Linked DNA regions of Homo sapiens. The protein of the gene in region 1 interacts with the protein of each later gene in a pairwise test. Each region holds a gene or a part of one and is shown in the gene's direction. Other genes may lie near its edges. The genes, in order: CASS4, SPIN1, TSPOAP1, REPS1, SORBS1, ABLIM1 and CCDC78.

Region 1 (3,968 bases):
GAACTTGCCTCAGAGGTGTGGTAAAAGAAAAGAAAATTTAAAAATAAAAAATTAAAAAATGCTGTCTGACAAGAAGATAGCGGTAAGCTATCCCCCACAGCTGGTTGGGGATAGAACTTGAGCCTGGCTTGGAAGAATGGGCACCATTTTGTCTAAATAAAAATGCAGGCCGGGGCCAGGCGTTGTGGCTCACGCCTGTAATCCCAGCATTTTGAGAGGCTGAGGTGGGTGGATCACTTGAGGTCAGGAGTTTGAGACCAGCCTGGCCAACATGGTGAAGTCCTGTCTCTACTGAAAATACAAAAATTAGCCAGGCGTGGTGGCGGGTGCCTGTAATCCCAGCTGCTCTGGAGGCTGAGGCAGGAGAATCACTTGAACCCGGGAGGTGGAGGTTGCAGTGAGCCGAGATTGCGCCACTGCGCTCCCACCTGAGTGACAGAGAAAGACTCCGTCTCAAAAAAAAAAAAAAATGCAGACTTATTTTGCTCAGTGTCTGCTATGCTGTAGGTCCTCTCTAGAGATTGGATCTGAATTTAGGAAAAGTAAAAAGAGTTGGCAAGTGATGATAAACTGCATGAGCTAGCAGGGGTTTCAAGTACAACACACACGATAAGTTTATTTGATTTAAGAGAGAGAATACAGGTGCGGGGCTCAGCATAGCCCTCAGTGCAGAGCCAGTACCCAGAAGATGTTATTCATTAGGTACCATGAGCAAAGACCAGGAGATGAGCATGGGGTTCCGAGCAGGGTGAATGCACAACTGACAGGGTGGGTAGAGTGGAGACTGTGTCCTTTAAGGCAGCCTGTTTGACTGCTTTTATCCTGGCTGTCATAAGGCAAGTTTTAGGGAGCAGGAAGGAAGAAATGCTGACCGCTATCAGAAATTTGGCCTAGTGGCCTCTCATCAGGGAAATGAGCTTGGTCTGTTCGGTTGGAGTTGTTCCACAGAGTTCAAAGGACAAGAATGCTGTGTGTTCATACACTGAGCTCTTCGAAGTAGGAACTTCGCCCTATAAAGCAGAAGAGTGGTGTTTTTTTCTTCTTCTTCTTCTTTTGTGGTTTCACATAGCAAATGAGTGACAGTCTCTACTTACAGACAAAGTGAGACGTCAGGCATTGAGACGTGAGTGTGGCTTGTATTTCTGGTCCTCCCCTGCTTCACTGCTTTCATTTTACTCTTATCGTGCTTTCCAGAAAGTTTGCCTGCTGGGAGAGTCTTTTTGATCGTTTCCCATGTGTTGTCAGATAGCTCCATAGAATTCAGTTTCTGAGAACCAGCCAGAAGCATGCAGTGACATTGCACAATCTGCCTCTGAAGCTGGAGATACTAGCTGCAGAGCTCAGGGGAGCTGCTCCACATCACCGACATGAAGGGAACAGGCATCATGGACTGTGCGCCCAAGGTGAGTGATGTGGGGCTGTTTGAATGGGCTCTGGCGGGGAGCAAGCTGTGATGATTAAGGGTGTTGACCAGCTTTAGTTGTGACTTTCTAATAAAGGTTGAATACCAGTGACGTGTGAGTTGGAGATGGGAAAGTTTAACATAAGTTTAAGTGTGGGAAATAGATGTGTTGTAAAGCTCCTTACCAGTTTGCATCCAAGATGGGTGAAAATGACTTTGTAGTAGAAATCAGCTTACTTGGTTGACAGCGCCGTCCATCATTTTGCGTCCAGCAAACTCCTGAAGCAAGATGCGAGTCTGCCTCAGCCCCCGCTAATTCCTTCTTTCTCTGGACCCCAAAGACACTCAGTGCCACTCTAACTGTCCTATTTGGTTTCTGTGCTCACCTCCCAACAGCAGAGCCCAGACCCTTGCCTGCAGCCTCCCGTGCTGAGCCCACAGTGGGCACTTACATGTTATTTTCATGTTAACTTGTGCATTATGTGAGCAAAGCTGGAGCTTTCAGACAGACTTCATGCCTGTCATGAATCAAAAAAGATTCACTATTTAGAAAGGTGAAAGAAGCCAGGCACGGTGGTACATACCTGTACTCCAGCTACCGGAGAGGCTGAGGTGAGAAGATTAATTCAGCCCAGAAGTTTGAGTCCAGCCTGGGCAACATAGCGAGACCCCATCTTAAAAAAAAAAAAAAGAAAAGAAAAGTTAAAATGGCTACCATATTAAAAAAAAATTTACCCAGACATAAAGAAAGTGAAGCTCAAGGTTGTGTTTTCATCTTGCTATGCCCTTTTTAAATTTTAAGTAGAACAGGAAAAAAGAAATGAAACAAGCAGTAAATGGGGAGCTTGCTTATAAAAATCAATGCTTATTTTTCATTATAATAAAAGTGACTAGTGTGGCTGTCTGCGGTGGCTCACACCTGTAATCCCAGCACTTTGGGAGGCCAAGGCAGGTGGATCACTTGAGGCCAGGAGTTTGAGACCAGCCTGATCAACATGAAAAAACCCCATATCTACCAAAAATACAACAATTAGCTGAGCGTGGTGGCGCATGCCCGTGATCCCAGCTACTCGGGAGGCTGAGGCACAAGAATCGCTTGAGCCTGGGAGGCAGAGGTTGCAGTGAGCTGAGATTATACCACTGCATTCCGGCCTGGGTGACAGAGCAAGACTCTGTCTCAAAAAAAAAAAAAAAAAAAAAAAAAAAGTCACTAGTGGAATTTGTGACTGAGTAACCCATGACAGTCTCTCTTGTATAGATTATATGTAAATATCTTAGCTACCCTAGAATTTTGTCCCCAACTACTTACTTTGAAAAATTTCAAACCATTGGAAAAATATGGGAAGCGTGGGGGTTATTCAGTAAATCCCTGCATATCCTTCACCTAGATCATTGGTTTCTGGTACTTTGTCATATTTGTGTGCATTTATTTGTGTATATTTAGACACTGGAACACACTTCATTTTTATTGTTGTTGTTAAACTCTTTGAAAATAAATGGCCAATACAATGACGCTCCACCCCTAAACTTCATTATGTGTCTCCTAAGAACAAGGACATTCATCTACAGAACGTAGAAGAATATCTACATATCATCATACCCAAGAACATTTCACATTTATTTAATAATGCCTTTCTACTATTCAGTCTAATTCACGTTGATTTAATAATGCCATTCTACTATTCAGTCCACATTCACATTTTCCAAAATTATCCTTTTTAGCTTTTCTGGCTGTTGTTGTTTGTGTGTGTGTTTGTCTTTCTGATCCAGGTGGTGTTTGTCAATTCTCAGTTCTTAATCTAGAACAATCTACTACCTTTTTCTCTTTCATAACATTGACCTTTTTTCTAAACAGCCTAGATTTTTTATGATTTAGACTTCTTTTTATGTACTGCTTATTCTGCCTAAATAATTTATGTAGCGCTTTACAATTGGGTGGGGTTTTGTTATTTAAAAAAAATATTTTTAGCAATGGGGGTATCACTCTGTTGTCCAAGCTGGACTCAAATTCCTGAACTCAGGTGATTCTTCTGCCTCAGCCTCCCAAGTACAGGATTACAGGTGCACACCACCGAGCCCCACTGCAATTTGTAAATAACATGCATGTTTGCATAGAACATATAATTGATATTCCCAGCATCCCCATGAAATTCTGCTATTAATATTATACAGATAGGCCGGGAGCGGTGGCTCATGCCTGTAATCCCACCACTTTCAGAGGCTGAAGCGTGTGGATCACCTGAGGTCAGGGGATTAGCCTGGCCAAAATGGTGAAACCCCATCTCTAGTAAAAATACAAAAAAATTAGCTGGGCATAGTGGTGCACGTCTGTATTCCCAGCTACTCGGGAGGCTGAGGCAGGAGAATTGCTTTATATATATATATAAATAGTAGCCAACCCTTACCGATTGTCTACATGTGAGGCCCTGTGCTGAGTGCTCTACTTGCATTTTCTCACTATTACATCCTCACAACATCCTCATGAAGCAGAGGTATTATTCCCCTGTCACAGACGAGGAAACGAGGCCTCGCTGACTTGCCCAAGGCCATACAGCTAGTAGGTGGC
Region 2 (3,500 bases), on another chromosome or scaffold:
CAGAGGATGGTTCTAAAGATGAGTGGAGGGGAATGGTCTTAGCACGTGCACCTGTCATGAACACATGGTTTTACATTACCTATGAGAAAGACCCTGTCTTGTACATGTACCAACTCTTAGATGATTACAAAGAAGGCGACCTTCGCATTATGCCTGATTCCAGTAAGTATATATTGGCAACTTTTATATGTGATAATTAGAAGGGATTTGGACTTCAGTACAAGATATTTGATTGGCTCTTTTGCAGATACATTTTTATTTTTGGATATATGATTCTTTTAGTCATGCACAAACACAGCCTTTGAAATTTTTCATCCAGTTGTTATAAATGTTAGATAAGAAAATATTTGATAGTCAGTTCTGCTTGGCTTCTGTAATAAGATACAAGTTGTTTTATAATTATTAACACTACTACATATTACTTCTTGCTTTTATTTAAAAACATGATGGAATAGGGATCAGTAAAATACGTCCCCGTGTACCCTGCTCAGCTTTAACAGTTATCTCATCGCCTGTCTAGTTTTATCTGTTAGTCCCCCCAGTGCAATTATTTTGAATCTAATCCCAAGACATTGATTATTTCATCTGTAAATACTTGAACTTCAGAGCAGCGATCTTCAGCCTTTTTGTCACCGGGGACCAGTTTCATGGAAGACAGTTTTCTGTGGATTGGGGGTTGGGTGTGGATATGGTGGTTTTGGAGGCATTAGATTCCCATAAGGAACACACAACTTAGATTCTTCACATGCGTAGTTCACAATAAGGTTTGTGCTCCTGTGAGAATCTGATGCCTCTGCTGATCTGACAGGAGGCAGAGCTCAGACGGCAGTGCTCTCTTTGCCGCTGCTCACCTCCTGCTGTGCGGCGTGGCCCCAGGTGTCTGGGACTCCTGATTTAGAGAACATCAATTTCAGAAAACGATTGACTGCTAACTTTTCAGTAGCAAGTGGAGTACAGAGTCAGTGTTTAGACAGGTGATTTAGCTATTTCCACAACTAGTCTGTTCACACAGGTAAGGTAGAAGAGGATGTGACCTGGGCTAATTTCATTAGGCCTAGAAAACCTTTATTGTGGTTTTTGTTTTTGGACAGAGTCTTGCTCTGTTGCTCAGGCTGGGCTGGAGTGTAATGGTGTGGTCTTGGCTCACTGCAACCTCCGCCTCCCACGCTCAAGCGAGTCTTCTGCCCCAGCCTCCCAAGTGGCTGGGACTGCAGGCACCCACCGCCACACCTGGTTAATTTTTGTTTGTTTGTTTGTTTTGTTTTATATTTTAGAGATGGGGTTTCACCATGTTGGCCAAGGTGGTCTCAAACACTTGAGCTCAGGTAGTCCACCAGCCTTGGCCTCCCACAAGTGTTAGGATTACAGGTGTGAGCCATTACGACCATGTTAGTCCATATAGTTAGTCCATTTAAAATGTGCATTTCTGTACTTTTTAATATACGCACAGATATGTACAGTCCTCACCACAGTCGATTTTAGAACATTGTCATCACCTCAAAAGAAAACTTTGTATCTGTTAGCTGTCAGTCCTTTATTCTTCGAACCCCCTGGCCTTAAGCAACCAGTAATACTTGCTGTGTAAATTTCCCTGTTGTGGACATTCATATGAATGGACTATATGGTGTGAGGTCCTTTGTGCTAGCTTCTTTCCCTTAGCATATTTTGAGATTTCATTCACGCTGTAGCATATATCAGTACTTCATTCCTTTTAATGGCCAAATACGATTCCATTGTATGGATATACTACATTTTGATTAGCCATTCATCCAGTAAAGCACATCTGAGTTGTTTCCCCACCTCTTGGTTATTATGAATAATGCTGCTGTAAACATTTTTGTACAAGTTTCTGTGTGGACATGTTTTATTTCCTTTGGGTATATACCTAGGAGTGGAGTTGCTGGGTCATAATGGTAACTCTATGTTTAATCGTTTGGGGGAACTGCCAGGCTAATTTTAAAAACGGAAATACCACTTTACATTTCCAACAGCAGTGTATGAGACTTCTGATTTCTCCACATTCTCACCAACTGTTACTGTTACTTTGATTCTGGCCATCCTAGTGGATGTGAAGTGGTATCTCATTGTGGCTTTGATTTGCATTTCCCTGATGAGTAATGATGTTAAGCATCTTTCATATGCTTATTGGCCCCCCCCCTTTTTTTTTTTGAGACAGAGTCTTGCTCTGTCGCCCAGGCTGGAGTGCATTGGCGTGATCTCAGCTTACTGCAGCCTCCGCCTACTGGGTTCAAGCCATTCTCCTGCCTCAGCCTCCCCAGTAGCTGGGACTATAGGCGCGTGCCACCATGTCTTCTAATTTTTGTATTTTTAGTGGAGATGGGGTTTCACCATATTGGCCGGGCTCCTCTTGAACTCCTGACCTCAAAGGATCCACCTGCCTTGGCCTCCCAAAGGGCCGGGATTACAGACATGAGCCACCATGCCCGGCCTATTGGCCCTTTTAATATCATCTGTGGTGAAATGTCTATTCATATCCCCTGCCTATTTTTAAATTGAATTATCTGTCTTTCATTATTGCATTGTGACAATTTTTTAAATACAAGACCTTTATCAGATATATGTTGCAAATGTTTTCTCCTATTCCATGGGCTGTTTTTACTTTCTTGATGATGATCTTTGCACAAAAGTTTTAAACTCTGAAGTCCGAGTTATGTTTTCTCTTGCTGAGTATGCTTTTTGTGTCCTAAGAATCTTTTGCCAAATCTGAGGTCATAAAGATTTACCCTCGTTTTCTTATAAGAGTTTTATAATTATAGCTCTTACTTAGAGATCTTTGATGCATTTTCAAGTTAATTTTTGTTTGTGGTTCAAGTTAAGGGTCCAACTTCATTTTTTTTTGCTTGTGACTGCCTATCTAGTTGTCCAAGCACCATATTTTGAAAAGACTATTCTTTCCCCCATTGAATGGTTTTGGCATCCTTGTTGCGCGGTGGCTCACACCTGTAATCCCAGTACTTTGGGAGGCCAAGGCGGGTGGATCACGAGGTCAGGAGTTCGAGACCAGCCTGGGCAGCACGGGGAAACCCTGTCTCTACTAAAAATTAGCCAGGTGTGGTGGCAGGCACCTGTAATCCCAGCTACTCGGGAGGCTGAGGCAGGAGAATCGCTTGAACCTGGGAAGTGGATGTTGCAGTGAGCCAAGACCGCACCATTGCACTCCAGCCTGGGCAACAGAGCGAGACTCTGTCTCAAAAAAAAAAAAAAAAAAAAAAAAAGAAAATCAGTTGACCACAGATACGTGGGTGTGTTTCTGGACTCTCAATTCTGTTGCATTAGTTTGTATGTCTGTTGCTGTGCCAGTGCTGCATTGTCTTGATTACATTGCTTTGTGGTAAATTTTGAGATCAAGAAGTTTGAGTCCTGCTTTTTTTTTTCCTCCTTTTTTTGAGACAGTCGCACTCTGTTGCTCAGGCTGGAGTATAGTGGCACGATCTCGGCTCATTGCAACCTCCGCCTCCCAAGGAACTGGGATTACAGGC
Region 3 (3,500 bases), on another chromosome or scaffold:
AATAGCAAATTGGGCAGGTATCTCTGATGGGGAGCGTCCTGCATCACTGGGTCTTGTGCCCCCCTGCCCCCAGGCCCACCTGATGCCCCTCTGGATGTGCAGATCGAGCCTGGGCCCTCCCCTGGGATCTTGATCATCAGTTGGCTCCCAGTCACCATCGATGCTGCTGGCACATCCAACGGTGTCCGGGTCACAGGCTATGCCATCTACGCTGATGGGCAGAAGGTATAGCCCTGCCCACTGTACCCTGGGAGTGGGGGTGGGTCCCTTCTTGCTATGCTCAGAGGTCTAGGCTCTCTGGCTTGGCACGGAGATGCCCAGCCCCTGGCATTTGGGTACCATGAGGCAGATGGGTTAAGAGCATGGGCTTTGGCAGCACATGACAGATTTTAGAACTGTTCCATCACTGAAGCCATATGGCCAGGAGGATGAAATGAGATAGGCCATGCAGAGGGCTTAGCACAGTACCTGGCGTAATGCTAGCTGCCACTGCTGTCAGTTAGCTGCCACTGCTGTCAGTGCATCCTCACGCTTGGCTGTCTCAGCCTCTGCTTCCCATCCTGTGCCCCCTCCACCCTGCAGATCATGGAGGTGGCCTCACCCACGGCAGGCAGTGTACTGGTGGAGTTGTCCCAGCTGCAGCTGCTGCAGGTGTGTCGTGAGGTGGTCGTGCGCACCATGTCGCCCCACGGGGAGTCGGCGGACTCCATCCCGGCTCCTATCACTCCCGCCCTGGCTCCGGCCAGCCTGCCAGCCCGAGTCTCCTGCCCCTCACCGCACCCAAGCCCAGAGGCCAGAGCGCCCCTTGCTTCAGCCTCCCCAGGGCCTGGAGACCCCAGCTCTCCTCTCCAGCACCCTGCTCCCCTTGGAACTCAAGAGCCTCCAGGAGCACCCCCTGCAAGCCCTTCCAGAGAGATGGCAAAAGGGTCCCACGAGGACCCTCCAGCACCTTGCTCCCAGGTACCCTGTCTGGGGAGAGGGGAGCAGGTGCAGGCTGGCAGAGGGACCTGGGCTTGGGTCCTTCCTCAGTGCTCTCTGTTCCAGGAGGAGGCTGGGGCAGCAGTGCTGGGCACCTCAGAGGAGAGGACAGCCAGCACATCTACCCTGGGTGAGAAGGACCCTGGCCCCGCAGCTCCCTCACTGGCCAAGCAGGAGGCCGAGTGGACTGCAGGAGAGGCCTGTCCGGCCTCCAGCTCCACCCAGGGAGCACGGGCCCAGCAGGCGCCAAATACCGAGATGTGCCAAGGAGGAGACCCAGGGTCTGGGCTGAGGCCCAGGGCTGAGGTAGGGGTTTGGGGACACACTGTGTCACTTCAGAGAATTGAGGCCTGTCTCCCTACCTTTTGCCAGCGCAAATCCAGTTGCCCTCTCTGCCTGTCCTCTGCTCTGGTCCTGCTCTCACACCTTTGGCTGTGCTATGTGTCTGTTTTTCTTCTAGGATTTCTCTGTCCCATGTGGCTCCCATCTCCCTTCTCCCACCCTGCCCCTGAGCCATGGTGTGCCTCCCCCATTTAGGACATGGCTCTTTCTCCCTCTGCCAAAGGACCCTTGTTACTGTGGCTGGGGCTGACCCTGCCTGGAACCCCCTGTGCCCCCTCACTGTCCTTATCTCTCCTGCCTTGCCTCACTTCTTGCAGAAGGAGGACACAGCAGAGCTTGGGGTTCATCTGGTGAACTCCCTCGTGGACCACGGCCGCAACTCAGACCTGTCAGACATCCAGGAGGAAGAGGAAGAGGAGGAGGAGGAGGAGGAAGAGGAGCTGGGTTCCAGGACTTGCTCCTTCCAGAAGCAGGTTGCTGGCAACAGCATCAGGGAGAATGGGGCCAAGGTAACGGGGTAGGGATGGGCTGTTGGGCCCCAGGCCTCAAACTCCGGGGCCTCCCCACTGTGTGTCAGCAGGTGCTCTGACCACCACTGAGTGCCAGAAACATTCTAGGTCTGTGGCCTGGGCCCTGTCCTAAGCAGAAGATAGGAAGTGCCCCAGGATTGGCCCCTGCCCTCCTGGAAAGAAAGGGGAAGGGGAGGAGTTCATTTCTGTACCTTCTCTCCCTCCAGCCCACCAGATACAGCGCCCTGGCCAGGGGAGGCCGGTGCCACCTAAGATCCTTGTGCTGGTAGCTTCTGGGGAGGGGATGGGGAGGCCTGCTCCTCAATGCTCCTGTCCCACAGGGGCTGGTGATGGTTCCTAGAGTGTGTTCCCTAATTCTTCCTTTGGCTCTCACTGGATATGTGTGTGAATTTGGGCCAGCCACCGTCCCTCTGGTTCTCTCCTCTCGGAGGAAGCCGTGGGAGGGCTGTGGGGTTGTCCGTAACCCCTGCCTTCGTTTGAGGGCAAAGATCGCAGCTCGCTCTCCTCTTCCCCACGCATCTCTCTTCCCTGCTGTGTTCTACTCCCACCTCCCCACCTCCACCAGTCCCAGCCCGACCCCTTTTGTGAGACTGACAGCGATGAGGAGATCTTGGAGCAGATCCTGGAGCTGCCCCTCCAGCAGTTCTGTAGCAAGAAGCTCTTTAGCATCCCGGAGGAGGAGGAAGAGGAAGAGGAGGACGAGGAGGAGGAGAAGTCAGGGGCAGGCTGTTCTTCCCGAGACCCTGGCCCGCCTGAACCTGCATTGCTGGGGCTGGGCTGTGACAGTGGTCAGCCCCGAAGACCTGGCCAGTGTCCCTTGTCTCCTGAGTCCTCCAGGGCTGGAGACTGCCTGGAAGACATGCCTGGATTAGTTGGTGGAAGCAGCCGGAGGAGAGGAGGGGGCTCCCCTGAGAAGCCCCCAAGCCGCAGGCGGCCTCCAGATCCCCGAGAACACTGCAGCCGACTTCTCAGCAACAATGGGCCCCAGGCCTCTGGACGACTGGGCCCCACACGGGAGAGGGGTGGCCTCCCCGTAATTGAGGGCCCCAGGACTGGACTAGAGGCTAGCGGGAGAGGCCGGCTGGGCCCTTCCCGGAGGTGCTCCCGTGGCCGGGCGCTGGAGCCTGGCCTGGCCAGCTGCCTTTCCCCCAAGTGCTTGGAAATCAGCATTGAATATGATTCGGAGGATGAGCAGGAGGCGGGCAGCGGGGGCATCAGCATCACCAGCTCCTGCTACCCTGGAGATGGGGAGGCCTGGGGCACAGCAACTGTAGGAAGGCCCAGGGGGCCTCCGAAGGCCAATTCAGGCCCCAAGCCCTACCCACGCCTCCCAGCCTGGGAGAAAGGGGAACCAGAGCGGAGAGGCCGCAGTGCGACGGGCAGAGCCAAGGAGCCACTCTCCCGGGTCCGTGCTCACTCCCCGCCCTGGGCAGCCCCTGCCTGCTGCCACCTGGTGGCCCTGCTTGCTGCCCACCAGCAGCTCCCATTCCACGCTGCCTGCCTCCATCAGCAGAGGTGGGGCCGGGCCTCCGGGCTCCCTCACCTGCCTCCTCCCACCCACATTCCACTGCTTTGCTGCTTCTGCTGATCAGGACTGGGATGCACAATATTCTATCACTAGTCGCCTGTTGCGGCCTGTGGGCAGGGTCG
Region 4 (2,630 bases), on another chromosome or scaffold:
AATTGAGCAGAGCCTCCTCATGTACGGGTAGGTATTCTTCCCATGTTTCCCCCTTTATTAAGTTGAATTCAATGCCATTTTAACACCCTGTTTTCAAACCCCGTAGCAGTACATTTTTTAAACTTGATAGTTTATAGTAAAACTGGTATTTTAATTATGGTGTTCTAGACCAGGAATCAGCAGATTAAGTCTTAATGGGCCAAATTCAGCCTATGGCCTGTTTTTGTATAGCCCATGAGCTAAGAATGACTTTTTCTTTTTTGTAGAAGAGAGAAGAAAAAATAGAAGAGAAAAGAAAACAAAAAACTAGAATATGAGACAGAAACTCTTTGGCCCACAAAGCCTGAAATTATTTACTATCTGGTTTTTTACAGAAAAGGTTTGCCAGTACCTACTTTAGACTCTTTTACTTAAATTCAGGTGATTCTACAGAAGAAGAATTTTTTTAATAATTTCTTTTTTTTTTTTTAACCTTTCCTATAGTGCTGAAGCTTATATACTACTGCAACTGAGCAAGTGAGGTTGAGCTGTGCTAGTAAGGAAAAAGATGCTCTTTTTGCTTCTCATGTTTAGAAATAGATCAGGAAGGAATAGAGAGGATTTAAGATAAGAAATGAAGGTTATGGGTTTTTTTGCCTTCTTTATCTTCTCAGATCTGTTGGGAAAGATAAGAAAGCTATTCAGGCATCAATTAGACGTAATAAGGAAACCAACACCGTTTTGGCCAGATTGAATAGCGAATTGCAGCAACAATTAAAGGTAATATAGTTTCTGAATCTTTATAATGTTCCTTATCTTAGTAAAGAAACCTAAAGAGAAGGAATGTGACCTCAGATACCTCCAAGATCACATATATGGTTCTCTTCTCTAATTTTCTAGATGCTTTGACTGTGGTTAGTTAACCCCTCCCCGCCACACACACACACACACACACACACACTTTTTTTTTTTTTTTTAAAGAGACACGATCTCGCTCTATCACCCTGGCAACCTGGGCTCAAGCTATCCTCCCACTTCAGCCTCCTGAGTAGCTGGGATTACAGGCGTGAGCCACTGCACCCAGGTCCTAGTTTGTCCTTTTATCAAAGACAACTCAGATTCCATTAAAGGGACTTAAACAGGTCTAAAGAAGAAGAGAAGTGGCAGCAATTTCAGTCATCTTGCATGTGGAAAGAGAAAAGGCAAGCCTTAAATAGAAATGCTGCTTATGCAGTGTGTATACTGTCACCTAATACCTGAGAGGAATGTGTTTGTTTTCTAGTAACTATAATTTCTTTGCATCCCTAGAAATAAAAATTACTCTTACTTACTCCTTCTTTATTGAGTCAAAAAAAAAAATTACTCCCAGAATTGCTTATGGTTCCCCAACATTATTAGGTACTCATGTCTTACAAACCAGTGGTTCTCAAACCTTAAGGCATATACAGGTAATCTTGGGTCATGTTAAAATGAAGATTCTGGTTTTTGTAGAGCTAAGGTGGGACCTGGGAATTCTGCATTTCTCCTAAGCTTCCAGGCAGTGGAGATGCTGGAGCACTGTTGGCCCCACTTGGAATAGAACAAAGATGAGATGAGAGTCCATGGAAATGAAAAATGAATGCAGTTAGTTCATTCTCCTAACATTCTGTTCATGCTCCTCATTTAGCATTTATTACACTGTCCTGGAATTATTATCTGTGACACATTTGTCTCTCTGTCCTACTACAGTGAACTCATTGAGGGTAAATCATAATCATTTCTGTTTAGGAAGACCACGTAATATACCATCCAAATCGAGACACTTTTGAGAGGAAAAAAAGAGGGTGGTATTACTATCATTTAGGCCAAGACACTGGGTATAAACTGGGATTGTCCTAGATAAACTTATGACCGTCTTGTCCCTCTCCTCGAAACCTAGTATGTTAGGCATTTTTTAATGTCTGTTGAATGAATGATATAAACTTATGGCCACTTTGTGTCTATCCCCAAAACCTAGATCATATTTTAGGCATTTGATAAACATCTACTGAATGAATGATATTGTTGTATAACTCTATGATCAGAGGAGAAGACATTTGTAGTTATATGATTATTAATTTAGTCCATCGTACAGGAAGAATGAACTTAAAGACAAGCTTAGTAGTATAATACCATGAAGATGAAAATTTTGTTAATGCATGTTTTTCTGAACCAGGGAAGACCATTGAAACAAGTATATAGAAGCTATTTTGAAAAATTACTTTTTTCCTTACTTCTGAGAACAGAAAATGGGAAGTAAGGTACAAAATAGAGGTAGTTCTGGTTAAAACACAATACTGTCAATTTGAAAGAGAAAAATAGGAAAGTAAGTAAGTTAGAATATGGTGGCTAACTGAAAAGACTGCCTAAAATCAACATTGATTAAAAATTCTGAATGCAAAGTTATTCTTTGGGAAACTAAAGCTCAAAATGAGATCTAGGAGTTGATATAGCCAGATGTCATCACTAGGGAAAAGAAGCTACATTAACAAATTCATCTACCAGGGGGCGGGTTTATTGCAAAATTCAGGTGTTAATACCCATTGTTGCAAACAGTGACTTTTCTAAAAACTAGACATTCTATTTCCCTGATTTGTGTAATAAGAAAATGTTTGAAATTACTAGGATCTTAT
Region 5 (3,500 bases), on another chromosome or scaffold:
TTTCCACAGGATGCCACTTCCTCCAGTGCAGCCCAGCCGGAGGTAATAGTTGTCCCTCTCTACCTGGTTAATACTGACAGAGGGCAAGAAGGCACTGCCAGACCTCCAACACCTCTGGGGCCTCTTGGCTGCGTCCCCACAATCCCAGCGACTGCCTCTGCCGCCTCACCTCTGACCTTCCCGACTCTAGATGATTTCATTCCCCCTCATCTGCAGAGGTGGCCCCACCACAGCCAGCCAGCCCGCGCCTCTGGCTCCTTTGCCCCCATTAGCCAGACGCCACCATCCTTCTCACCACCACCTCCGCTGGTCCCTCCTGCCCCGGAGGACCTCCGCAGAGTCTCGGAGCCTGACCTCACGGGAGCTGTTTCGAGTACCGTAAGCTTGCTGGACTCCCCTCCTCACGGCTTTTCTGAATGTCTCCTCCCAGCAGTCACATTCCCTTTCTCACTGAAGCACTGAGCTCTGAGGACAGCACTGGCTGCCGCTGTGCCTGTGTGATGACTGGAGCCGTGTCCCCTGTCACTAGCGTGCATGCTTCCCGTGTGTCTTCCCTGGGTCTCTCGGGGCTGTTCCCCATCTCTGCAGTGCCTCATCTGCTCTGTCCTGTTGGGAATGCACATCTTTCTCCCTCAGAAGACAACATCTGTGGCCTTTATGTTGACTGGCCATGCTTTTCACAGGCCAGGTCGGGGGTCGTGTGGTGAGCTGAGGAAAGCTAAGAATTATGGGGGAAAGCAACGGCAGGCGTGGTGGGTGCTACTTACCAGGGAGCGGGGAGATCTCGGGGAGGAAGCGATTCTCTGATTCTCTTGTTGACCTAGTGAGTAAATAAACTCTCTGTAGTATACAGAAATGACAGAGACTAGGATTTTTTTTTTTTTTTTTTTTTTTTTTTTTTTTTTGTGAGAGAGTTGGGTTTAAGTGAGCAAGTGGGTCTGAAAGCCCTGTACAAATGTTAGGACTTTTACCTCAAAAGGCAGGCAATTGCTAGGGCCCCTGAGGAGAAGGTCCCAGGAGCCTCTGTGACAAAACAGTGCCCCAGTGGTCACAGGAAGTCAAAGGGCCCTGCTGCCTCAGGTCCCATCCTGTGGGTGGGGGAATGAGTTCCCATCACAGCCGGGAAAGCCCAACTGCTTAGAGAAAAAGCTGAGTCAAAGTGCTTGGGTCTCCTTTTTCCTTAGGAGCCCTGGGAATTGAGAGAATCTGATAACTTCATTGCGAGTTGTAATATGGGAATACGTGAATCTACTCACAGGGCTTCGGGTTCAGTAGGATCGAGTGTAAAAGTTCCTGTTATGGAGCTTGACATAGAGAAGGTGCCTAGTGAATGTTAGCTATGTTGCTGAGGACTTACCCTGGCAAATGAGGGCCAGGGTCACTCAAAAGCAAGTAACTGGTTAGTTAACAATTCATCATTGAGTTTCTGCCGTGGTCTAGGCATTCTGCTAAGTACCCTGGGTACAACCATGAGTCAGGGTCTTGTTCTCAAAGGGATTTTTGGAGTAGGAGGTCACTTCTCAAGCTTTGTGTACATGGGATCATCTGAGGGTCAGGGAGGCTTGTTTAAATCGTCACCCTCAGGTTATACTCCTAGAATTTCTGACTGAGTGGGTCTGGAGAAGAGCCTAGGAATCTCACTTGGTAGCAAGTGCTCAGGGGTTTCAGATGCTGGGGTCCACACCCTACATTTTGAGATACAGTCATGTAGTGGGTCATGCAATTGGCTGATGGAACTAAGCGTTTACTGACATCCCTTTGTGTAAAGATGTATGCCTGCAAAACTGTTCCAAATGGCTTGTTAAGCTGAAGCCAGTCATGCAGAAATCAGGAAGGAAACTTTTCATTTGGCTTATTAGATAAATTATAATGAGGCATCAAACACATCAAAGCTGGGAACCGTTACATCCTGAGCTGGGGCCTGTTCTGAAATCTCTAGTGCTGTGCAGTGTAGTTAGGTCAGCACCAGGCCCAATGTGACCCACGGCCTTGGATATCCTTCTAGCTTTGAATTTCGCAGCTCAGTCCCATTGAAGAAAAATGCTAGATGTTTCCCTGGTCTATTCCCGTCTACCTTCAGCTGAACTTAGAATTTAGAAGCCACTCTTGTTTTGGGGAGTTCAAGCATCTTCCCTTTGACACAGATTATGTTTGCCTGGAGTAGCAGGTAAGGTGTCTTATGTTTAGTGTCCTCATAGACCATTGTGAGTAGTTTGATTGTGTATTCTATAATTTATTTGTGTAGACCTAGGTTTTCATATCGAGTTGGTTTTAGGTGTACCAGGACAGATTCGTTGGGACAGGGTCCTCAGTTTCTCAAACCTGACTAATCAGCCTGGTGTAGACCTCCCAGAAGGACCTCAGTTTGGCCTGATAGCTTCGGGTTTGGCCCTGGGTAACAGAGGTGAAAAAGGAAACTACTTGGATTCCTCTTCCTCCTCTGTCAAGAGGAGGAGCCTCTGTGGATGGTGTCTGAGCTGTGAGCTGATGCCTGCTCCATCTGTAGCTAGTTGAGAGAAAGAAGGAAGAATAAAAGTCATGTTAATTGATTTGAGTTATTTTAATCAATAGCTGTTTTTGTGATGTTCCAGAAATAAGACACAAAATAAAATCTGTAAAGTGCTTAATGCTCATATGATCCACCCAAACATCACATTAGGCATTTATACTTTAAAGAGCTGTATGCCTGATATTTTGTGTTTCTTGGATGCATTCAGGCAGTTTTTAATGATATGTCATTTATCATAATTATATCACTTTGGAGATAAATTAGGAAAAGTGTAGTTATTTTTCACTTTCTAAATGGAGGAATCAAGGTGAGGCACTTTTGTATAAAATCATACTGTGCTTCTCAAGTCTTGAGAAAAGGTTTTATTCATGACATTGAGCTGCCCCTCATAACTAAATAGCGGCGGCTATTTAGTGGACTTTCAGAAGAGATAGACTGACCTAGGCAGTGTTGTGAAGTTCCTACTGTGTGTTGGGAGCTGTCCTGGGTGCTGATGCCCATATCCTCTTTTGATAAGCATTTGTTTTCTTGCTACAAACATTTGCTCAGACACAACATTGCTGAAAGATCCCACCTGTCAGTCACGTGACATTTACTAGCACCTGCTATCTGCAGGGCATTGGGCTAGGTGTGAGTGAGGGGGTGGCCCTCATCTTGTGGGTACGTTCACAGGAGTTGATCTTTGATTATTGCTTCAAGATAATTATTGCCTCAAAAGTAACTATTTAAAATCTTGTTCTTAAAGCCTTTTAAGAAGAGCATCCTCAATTTATGGTTTATAAACTCAAAAATAGAAATGTATAGATATCATGAAGGAAACTGTCTAAATATTCTTAGTACCTTTTGGGGTCTTATTTTGTTTTAAAAGACTGGCATTATCCCCAATATGCAGATTATAATGTTAGTATTAATAATTTTATTGGTATTTCTGGCAGAGACCTCAGGTTTTTAAAGTCAGGATTCTCACAAGTCTTAGGGATCTTTGTCACTT
Region 6 (3,500 bases), on another chromosome or scaffold:
CTAGTTACATAAGATCTATATTTTTTGAATGACTACTATGTATAAACCATCTAGATAGGCAAGAGGTGGTCCCAGTCTTCAAGGGGCTTGAAATCTGGCAGGCAAGGCAAGACAGGTGTCTGTTAATAGTAACTAGAATATGGCAGAATACCTGCTGGGCTCTAGAGGAGATGGCATTGGTGCTGGAGGTCAGAGGGGTGTGGAAGGTTTGGGTTGTTGTGGGAAGGAAAGAGAGACCACATGGGGGCATGTGTGCAGTGCATGTGTTGAAAGGCTGCTGGAGGGCCAGGCAGAGCAAGGTGGTATCCACCCAGGTAGTGCCACACCTTCCTTCCCTCATGCAGTTCTGCTGAAGGAATGACTGTGGGATTGAACATTTCTCCAAGTCTTTTCCCAGGATGTGGGCCAGGAGAAAAGGAATGAAAGGAATGGCCACCATGAAGGGGTCCTCTTCATACCCTCCTTCCTGTAGCAAGGGCCTGCAGCAGCCCAGAAGGACAGTCTGTTATCAGTCAAGAGGCTGCTGAATCCTTTCAAATGATGTTTTCTAAGCATATAGGAAATGCACGTGATATTAGTCAAAGGATACAAAGTTGCATTTATAGTATGATCTCAGTTTTATATGTGTGTATACAAAAATACTAGATAGATATAAATCAAAAGATAGTGTTATTTCTGAGTGACATATTATGGGTTACTCTTCTTTTCTTCTAGATTTTCCAAAATCTGTAAAATTAGCATGTATTACCTTTATTTCTTGTTTTTAAACAAATCAAGGCAATTTCTTTTTAAAGGATACCAGCCCCAGTCTTCCCTTCCCACATCAAAAATCCACACACACTCACACATGCCTTCTGAGGTCTCCTGGCTCTTTAGGGAAAGCAGAGGAAGGAAAACGTTCTTCTAACACAGAGCCTGACTTAGGGAAATGGAGCTTTGAAACTGAAAGGGCTAAGAGGGTTTAGGGTCCCAAACTTGACCTACCTCTTCAGGAACTACCAGGCTCTGGGGCCACATGCATTCAGGCCCTCCAGCAAGAGAAACTTCTTGTGGGATCTGCTACAAAGAAACTGCAGCTCCATGAAAGTAATTGCAAGCTTTGCTTTCTTTTTTTTTTTTTTTTCCTTTTTTCTGTGAATAGCTTAACTCAGGCCTGGGACAGTTGATCTTGAAAGAAGAGATGGAGAAAGAGAGCCGGGAAAGGTCATCTCTGTTAGCCAGTCGCTACGATTCTCCCATCAACTCAGGTAAGCAGCAAACCCCCAACCTTCCCTGATTCGAGAGCCAGCCACCTGCTTGTAAGGCACCTGCCTTGACTGTTCACTTGTGGTGGAACCTACAGAGTATTCCACGGGAAAGGAAGTGTGGGAAACCCACTCCATGTCAAATGAGCTCATAAGCATGTCATGGGTCTTCCATAAATGTGTGTTTCCTTTCTTCTGGAAATGGGTGAACCCTTGGAGGTTCTCAAAATCCATGAAGGCCAATCCCCATATACTAGGTTTGTCTTCTAGAACACTCATCTCCAAGGGAAGCAGCAAAAGGAAATCCTCTAAAAAACATGATGCTTTTCTTCTTCTTCTTTTTTTTTTTTTTTTTTTTTAGATAACATGAATAAGACATTTTCTAAGCATTATGATTTTACATTAATATCTTCAATAGAGGCCGGGTGCGGTGGCTCATGCCTGTAATCCCAGCACTTTGGGAGGCCAAGGCAGGCGGATCACCTGAGGTCAGGAGTTTGAGACCAGCCTGGTCAACGTGGCGAAACCCCATCTATACTAAAAATACAGACATTAGCCAGGCGTGGTGGTGGGCTCCTGTAATCCCAGCTACTCGGGAGGCTGAGGCAGGAGAATCACTTGAACCTGGGAGGTGGAGGTTGCAGTGAGCTGAGATCACACCATTGCACTCCAGCCTGGGCGACAAGAGTGAAACTCCATCTCAAAAAAAAAAAGAAAAAAAATCTTCAATACAAGAACTGAGGATGAACAGTGTTTTTGATACTTTTGAAGAAGATGACTTATACACTGGGCTGAAATAGCCTATCAGTGTATTTTCCCCTGTATCTATTTGTCATAAGCCAATTCTCTCTTAAACCACAAGATTTCTTCTCTCATATTCTGAGCTAGAGCATAATTTTCTCCTCTAAGAGTTCCTTTAAAAATGCATTTAGTGGGGAGACCAAGGCGGGCAGATCACAAGGTCAGGAGATCGAGACCATCCTGGCTAACACAGTGAAACCCCGTCTCTACTAAAAAATACAAAAATCAGCCAGGTGTGGTGGCGGGCTCCTGCAGTCCCGGCTACTCGGGAGGCTGAGGCAGGAGAATGGCGTGAACCCAGAAAGCTGAGCTTACATTGAGCCAAGATTGCGCCACTGCACTCCAGCCTGGGTGAGAGTGAGACTCTGTCTCAAAAAAAAAAAATGCATTTAATGTTCACTCCATGCAAGCATTTTTGCTAAACATTTTATTTAATGTTCACAACATGCCAGTGAAGTAGATGTGGTTGTTATTAGCAACTGCAGCATTTTCATCTCTATTTTAGAAATCAGGAGGCTGGTATAGAAATTGAGTTAACATACCCAGCGTGATACGCCAATAACTAGCAAGACTAGGATTTAGAAGTCCACATATTATAACCCCGGAGCCCACACCCTTACCTGGAATTCCCGCTACCCTTCATAGATGCCTCACTGGCATTGATCTTGGATTCGGTGGTTTACAAATCTTTAGAGTTCCTTGGAATTCTGAGATTCTGCTCTATAAGAATGTATAACATTGTACCTGCATAGATGAAGAAATGAGGACTTCAGAAAGATTAAACACCATGTCCGGAGATACAGAGGTATTAAGTTGCAGAACCAGAATTCAAGCCCAGGGCTGCTCCCTCTCAAGCCCAGCAGCTTATCAGGCTTCCATATCATTGACAGATACCCTGTATCAGGCCTCCCAGGAGGCCAGCTGTAGATGGCTGGTAGATCTTGATAACATACAGGGTTGGCTTCCAGTTCAGTTACTGCTGCCTTATCAACTGGGGCATGGGCTAATGTATTCAGATATCCCTGATTTACATCCTTGCTCAGCTGTTTAGAAGCTTAGTAACTGTTGGCAGGATATTTTTCTTAGCCCCTATTTCTCCTTCTGTAATATGGAACTAATAATCATAGTGTTATTAGGGTTATATTGAAGATTCAAAGAAATAAAGCATGCTGAACACTTAGCTCCATGCCAGAGCTATAGGAAGCACAGCCAGCTTCAGCCCCCACTCAACCGCGTGGACTTGACTTTCCCTTCCCTCCTCAGTCATATCACTGTCCACCCACTCCTTGCAAATATGATGGCATATTTTTGAACATTTGAGCCCAATATGATTTGAATTTTTTTGGTATTTCTATCCTGTGAGGTAGAAGATACTGCCAATTTCATTAAAGGATTGGACCTTCTGATTTCCTAACAATTGGTTTTTTACTTTTTTCTTACTCAGCTTCACATATT
Region 7 (4,091 bases), on another chromosome or scaffold:
AACCCCAGCCGCCAATGACTTCCGGAGAGCAGAGCACGTGGGGGCTCGCTCCTACCAGGGGGGTCGGGGAGGCTCTCGGGGGACACGGCCGGGTCCCTGCGGCCCGCGGCCTGCCCTCACCCTCTTGGGCACAGCCACGTCCACGGCCACCGCCTCGCGCGTGAGCTCCTCGATGACCAGGTACATGTAGTTGTCCTCGAGCACGGGGATGACCTTGACCTTCATGGTCACGGAGCTCGGCCACCGGTGCCTGCTCCAAAACAGGCCCCCCAGCCCACGGTGCCCCTTCAGGGCGGGGCCCGCTCTCCACACCCTAGGAAGGGCTGTGCGAAGCGGGCTCGGTCAACACGCTGGGGGCCAAAAGAGAAGCCCGGCTCCCCAGGAACTCCCCGGCACTCGCGTGGAATTCCACGCACCGGGCTCCAGCAGGAGCGGAACCCGGCCGGTCCCCAACCAGCCCCGGCTCCGCCCCCAGTCCGAGCCCCAGTCCCCAAAGGCCACGCCTTCCTCCCAGGCCCCGCCCCTCGGCCCCCCGCCCTGCCGCCGCAAGACCCCTGACCCGGGACAGCCGCGTTCCCCCGCCGCCCGCCTCACCGGCACGGCTGTGCTGAGGACCCGAAGGACAGACTGACGGAGGCGGGGCCTCGGCCGCCGGTCACGGGGTCCGGACTGAGCGCGGCGCTGGGCTCGGGAGCCGCCAACCGCCCCCCTCCGCGGACGCGCCCCGCCCCCGCCCCCGCCCGGCCCGGATCCTGCGCGCGATGAGACCACAAGGCCCGCCGGCGGTGCGCGTGCCCGGTGGGGCGCCACGCGCACGCTCCGACCCCGCCGCGCCCGGCGCTGGCACCTCCTCCAGGAAGCCCTCCCGACGCCCCGGCTGAGCCAGTCGTTTCCGAGTTCTCCGGCCCCTGATGGGGACGTCTGCGCCCCTCTTCTCAGGCCAGAGGTGCAGAGATATACTTCCCCCGTCCCGGGGCTCAGCCAGCACTGCTAGGTACACAGAAGGTGTCCAGCGAGTGTAGCTCAGGGCATCCTGCGGGCGGGCTGCCGCTCCGTTCCGCGTGCTCGTCCGCTGCGCCCAGGCTGGGCGCTTTCACGCACCTGGTTCCATCTGCACAGGGTATGTGCAGGGGGCGCTGGGCCGCATTCCCCAGATGGGGAAACGGAGGCATGGAGAGAGGAAGAGCTATCCTCCCTCCTCAGCAACCACCGGTCTGGCCGGCCCCTGTGGGCGGTGCCCTGGGAGTCACCTGGGACCAACAGAGGCCTTGGCAACGCACTTAGCAGTGCCAGTGGCAGCAGCAGCCATGGGGAAGCCGGGCGTGGAGGCAGCACCGGGCTCGGAGCTGGCCAGGGTTCCCTAGCCTATGGAGCACGCAGCCACCACAGGCCCCAGGCCTGGACCTCCCTCTCGGCGGGTGGAGAATGTGAGTCCTCTGGGACTTGCCGCTCCTGCCATGGGGTTGAAGTCTGCCCGTTCCCCCAAAGGCCAGGAGGGTGCAGGTTCCTGCACCCTGGGCCTAATTTCAGCCAGGAGAGGGACTTTTACAGCTCAGCCAGGCAGGGAGGCGGGACTGGTGACTGCATGGGAGTGGGGCCACAGCCCAGCCTGGGACCCACCTGGGGAATGGGTGGCGGTACCTCCCCAGGTTGTGCTACGAGCCAAGGACTGGCTGCCAGGAGCTCCTGGGGGCACCGCAGTGTGGGCCACCAGCTTGGAAGCAGAGGTCCCACCAGATCTAGCGCTCAATAAGGAGCAGCAGCTGCAGGTGGGTGTGGGGCCCCAGCGTGCTCGTGAGGAGGGAGGGTGCCAGCAGGGCCCACAGACGCCACCTCTCACCTGGCCACCCACAGATCTCCAAGGAGCTGGTCGACATTCAGATCACAACCCACCACCTACATGAGCAGCATGAGGCTGAAATCTTCCAGCTGAAGAGTGAGGTGAGCAGCCGTGTGAACCAGCCTCAGTGCATGGGGGACGGGGGGTGCAGGCCCAGGACACGTGCCCTGCATGGGCATGCACACGCACATGGCATCTGTGGGTCTCAGCCTGCCTCTGAGTGCTGCGCGCCCCTGAGCGTGCACCGGGTGAATGTTCACCTACCCCAGGTGGCCCGCGGGCAGGTGCACCTGCTCATGCCAGTTGTCCCACAGATCCTTCGGCTGGAGAGCCGGGTACTGGAGCTGGAGCTGCGAGGAGATGGCACCAGCCAGGGCTGTGCAGTCCCAGTGGAGTCTGACCCCAGGCATCCCCGGGCAGCAGCCCAAGAGCTCAGACACAAAGCCCAGGTGCCTGGACACTCTGATGACCACAGATTCCAGGTTACCATGAGCATATGGAGAGCCTGGCTGGGAAAGGCCAGAGGGAAGCCTCAGCAGGGGCCTCAGTGAAACTGGGGCTCACCCACCCCTTAGCTTTCCCTGCCCTCCCTTCCATTCAGGTGCAGCCCAAGAACACCATGAACCCCGAGAATGAGCAGCACAGGCTGGGGAGCGGCGTGAGTGTGCAGCCACCTAGCTCAGGGGAGAGGGCAGCACCAGAGACCCCAAGCCTAGGGTCTCATCCAGCCAGCCCTGTGTGCCCCACAGCTGCAGGGGGAAGTGAAGTGGGCGCTGGAGCATCAGGAGGCCCGGCAGCAGGCACTGGTGACGCGTGTGTGAGTGGCCATCTCACCTGGGGCCCCATCCTGGAGCAGAGAGAACCCCTGATCGTGGGCCTGCTGAGCCTCACCCCCGTGTCTTCAGGGCAACCCTGGGCCGGCAGCTGCAGGGAGCCCGAGAGGAGGCCAGGGCAGCCGGGCAGCGACTGGCCACACAGGCTGTGGTGAGGCTCTGCCCTGACTGCTTGGAGACCTGGAGGGTGGGGGCCCCAGAAGCTCAGCCGGGGTCCACTCTCAGGGCACAGGTGGAGGGCTGCTTCCACCCCAGGTGCTGTGCAGCTGCCAAGGCCAGCTCCGTCAGGCAGAGGCTGAAAATGCCCGGCTGCAGCTGCAGCTCAAGAAACTGAAGGATGAGTACGTCCTACGGCTGCAACACTGCGCCTGGCAGGCAGTGGTGAGCCCTGCAGGAGCACCCTGAGGCCTAGGGAGCCCAAGCCTGGCCTGGGTGTGCTGGATAGCTTCAGGGAGACCCCAGGGCCCCGGCACTGCTCAGCCTGCTGGGGTGGGGGGATGGTTGGAAAAGATGGGGGGTGGGCCCCATGCGGACCCAGCCCGCCGCCTCCAGGAGCACGCAGATGGTGCAGGCCAAGCGCCAGCCACCACGGCCCTCCGGACATTCCTGGAGGCGACTCTGGAGGACATCCGGGCAGCGCACCGCAGCCGTGAGCAGCAGCTGGCCCGGGCTGCCCGCAGCTACCACAAGAGGCTGGTGGATCTGAGCCGCAGGCATGAAGAGCTACTGGTTGCCTACAGGTGGGCCCCGCTGGGATGGGAGGTGTCAGGCATCTGTGGGTCTCTAAGCCTCTGTGCCTCAAAGGCTTGGTGTGCAGCAGGAGTGGCCCCAGACAGACACTAGCCTACCCTGACAGGGCACCTGGGAACCCCCAAGCTATTTTTGACATAGCCAGCTTGGACCTGGAACCATTGCCCGTGCCCCTGGTCACTGACTTCAGCCATCGGGAGGACCAGGTGAGGCTAGAGACCCCCAGAAGCTCCAGGCCCGGGTGCCCCCCACCCACCCACTGCCCCACACTGGCCCCAGGCCTCATCCTGGGCTCAACAGAGACCTCAGCCCCGGGCCTCTGAGGGGCTTGCCTTGTTCAGCCAACTGAAACGTCCCCACCACAAACCTCTGTAGCACGGCGGGCCTGGGGCACTGCTCTCATCCCCAAAAAAGAGACCCGGTGGAGCCTCCCAGGGGGGAACATCAGAGCCACAGTGAGTGCCCTCATGGGTGTGGGGGAGGCCTGTGGGGGATGAGCAGAGAGCACAACGCCTGCACCCTGGGGCCCCCAGTTGCTCCACCAAGCCCCCGCCAGACAGGGTCTGGTCACAGCAATGCACTCAGTGGCACATCCCCACCCTGGGGTCCCTCCGTGGGTCCCGGCGACACTGATAATCACAGGAAAGAGAAGAGGGGCTGCTGCAGGT

What was found.
Region 2: the proteins of CASS4 (region 1) and SPIN1 interact in a two-hybrid assay, tested with the Homo sapiens proteins (one large-scale study listed by IntAct).
Region 3: the proteins of CASS4 (region 1) and TSPOAP1 interact in a two-hybrid assay, tested with the Homo sapiens proteins (one large-scale study listed by IntAct).
Region 4: the proteins of CASS4 (region 1) and REPS1 interact in a two-hybrid assay, tested with the Homo sapiens proteins (one large-scale study listed by IntAct).
Region 5: the proteins of CASS4 (region 1) and SORBS1 interact in a two-hybrid assay, tested with the Homo sapiens proteins (one large-scale study listed by IntAct).
Region 6: the proteins of CASS4 (region 1) and ABLIM1 interact in a two-hybrid assay, tested with the Homo sapiens proteins (one large-scale study listed by IntAct).
Region 7: the proteins of CASS4 (region 1) and CCDC78 interact in a two-hybrid assay, tested with the Homo sapiens proteins (one large-scale study listed by IntAct).

Annotation. Positions count from the first base shown.
Region 1 is NC_000020.11:56,411,092-56,415,059, forward strand, and holds the start of CASS4 (cas scaffolding protein family member 4), read left to right. Parts: upstream 1-1,168; 5' UTR 1,169-1,367; coding exon 1,368-1,403; intron 1,404-3,968. UniProt on the Homo sapiens protein: Docking protein that plays a role in tyrosine kinase-based signaling related to cell adhesion and cell spreading. Regulates PTK2/FAK1 activity, focal adhesion integrity, and cell spreading.
Region 2 is NC_000009.12:88,468,444-88,471,943, forward strand, and holds part of SPIN1 (spindlin-1), read left to right. Parts: coding exon 1-162; intron 163-3,500. UniProt on the Homo sapiens protein: Chromatin reader that specifically recognizes and binds histone H3 both trimethylated at 'Lys-4' and 'Lys-9' (H3K4me3K9me3) and is involved in piRNA-mediated retrotransposon silencing during spermatogenesis.
Region 3 is NC_000017.11:58,308,296-58,311,795, reverse strand, and holds part of TSPOAP1 (peripheral-type benzodiazepine receptor-associated protein 1), read left to right. Parts: intron 1-73; coding exon 74-225; intron 226-582; coding exon 583-960; intron 961-1,044; coding exon 1,045-1,284; intron 1,285-1,637; coding exon 1,638-1,829; intron 1,830-2,415; coding exon 2,416-3,255; intron 3,256-3,500. UniProt on the Homo sapiens protein: Required for synaptic transmission regulation. It probably controls the recruitement of voltage-gated calcium channels to the presynaptic membrane, and modulates neurotransmitter release.
Region 4 is NC_000006.12:138,905,624-138,908,253, reverse strand, and holds part of REPS1 (ralBP1-associated Eps domain-containing protein 1), read left to right. Parts: intron 1-653; coding exon 654-759; intron 760-2,630. UniProt on the Homo sapiens protein: May coordinate the cellular actions of activated EGF receptors and Ral-GTPases.
Region 5 is NC_000010.11:95,411,372-95,414,871, reverse strand, and holds part of SORBS1 (sorbin and SH3 domain-containing protein 1), read left to right. Parts: intron 1-9; coding exon 10-378; intron 379-3,500. UniProt on the Homo sapiens protein: Plays a role in tyrosine phosphorylation of CBL by linking CBL to the insulin receptor. Required for insulin-stimulated glucose transport. Involved in formation of actin stress fibers and focal adhesions.
Region 6 is NC_000010.11:114,441,776-114,445,275, reverse strand, and holds part of ABLIM1 (actin-binding LIM protein 1), read left to right. Parts: intron 1-1,141; coding exon 1,142-1,247; intron 1,248-3,489; coding exon 3,490-3,500. UniProt on the Homo sapiens protein: May act as scaffold protein. May play a role in the development of the retina. Has been suggested to play a role in axon guidance.
Region 7 is NC_000016.10:723,644-727,734, reverse strand, and holds the start of CCDC78 (coiled-coil domain-containing protein 78), read left to right. Parts: upstream 1-1,291; 5' UTR 1,292-1,367; coding exon 1,368-1,427; coding exon of another isoform or gene 1,428-1,649; coding exon 1,650-1,769; exon of another isoform or gene 1,770-1,854; coding exon 1,855-1,941; coding exon of another isoform or gene 1,942-2,154; coding exon 2,155-2,322; intron 2,323-2,441; coding exon 2,442-2,498; coding exon of another isoform or gene 2,499-2,589; coding exon 2,590-2,657; coding exon of another isoform or gene 2,658-2,745; coding exon 2,746-2,824; coding exon of another isoform or gene 2,825-2,828; exon of another isoform or gene 2,829-2,928; coding exon 2,929-3,054; exon of another isoform or gene 3,055-3,225; coding exon 3,226-3,413; intron 3,414-3,529; coding exon 3,530-3,629; intron 3,630-3,798; coding exon 3,799-3,878; intron 3,879-4,091. Other genes in the region: HAGHL (hydroxyacylglutathione hydrolase-like protein), read right to left, coding at 121-225. UniProt on the Homo sapiens protein: Component of the deuterosome, a structure that promotes de novo centriole amplification in multiciliated cells that can generate more than 100 centrioles.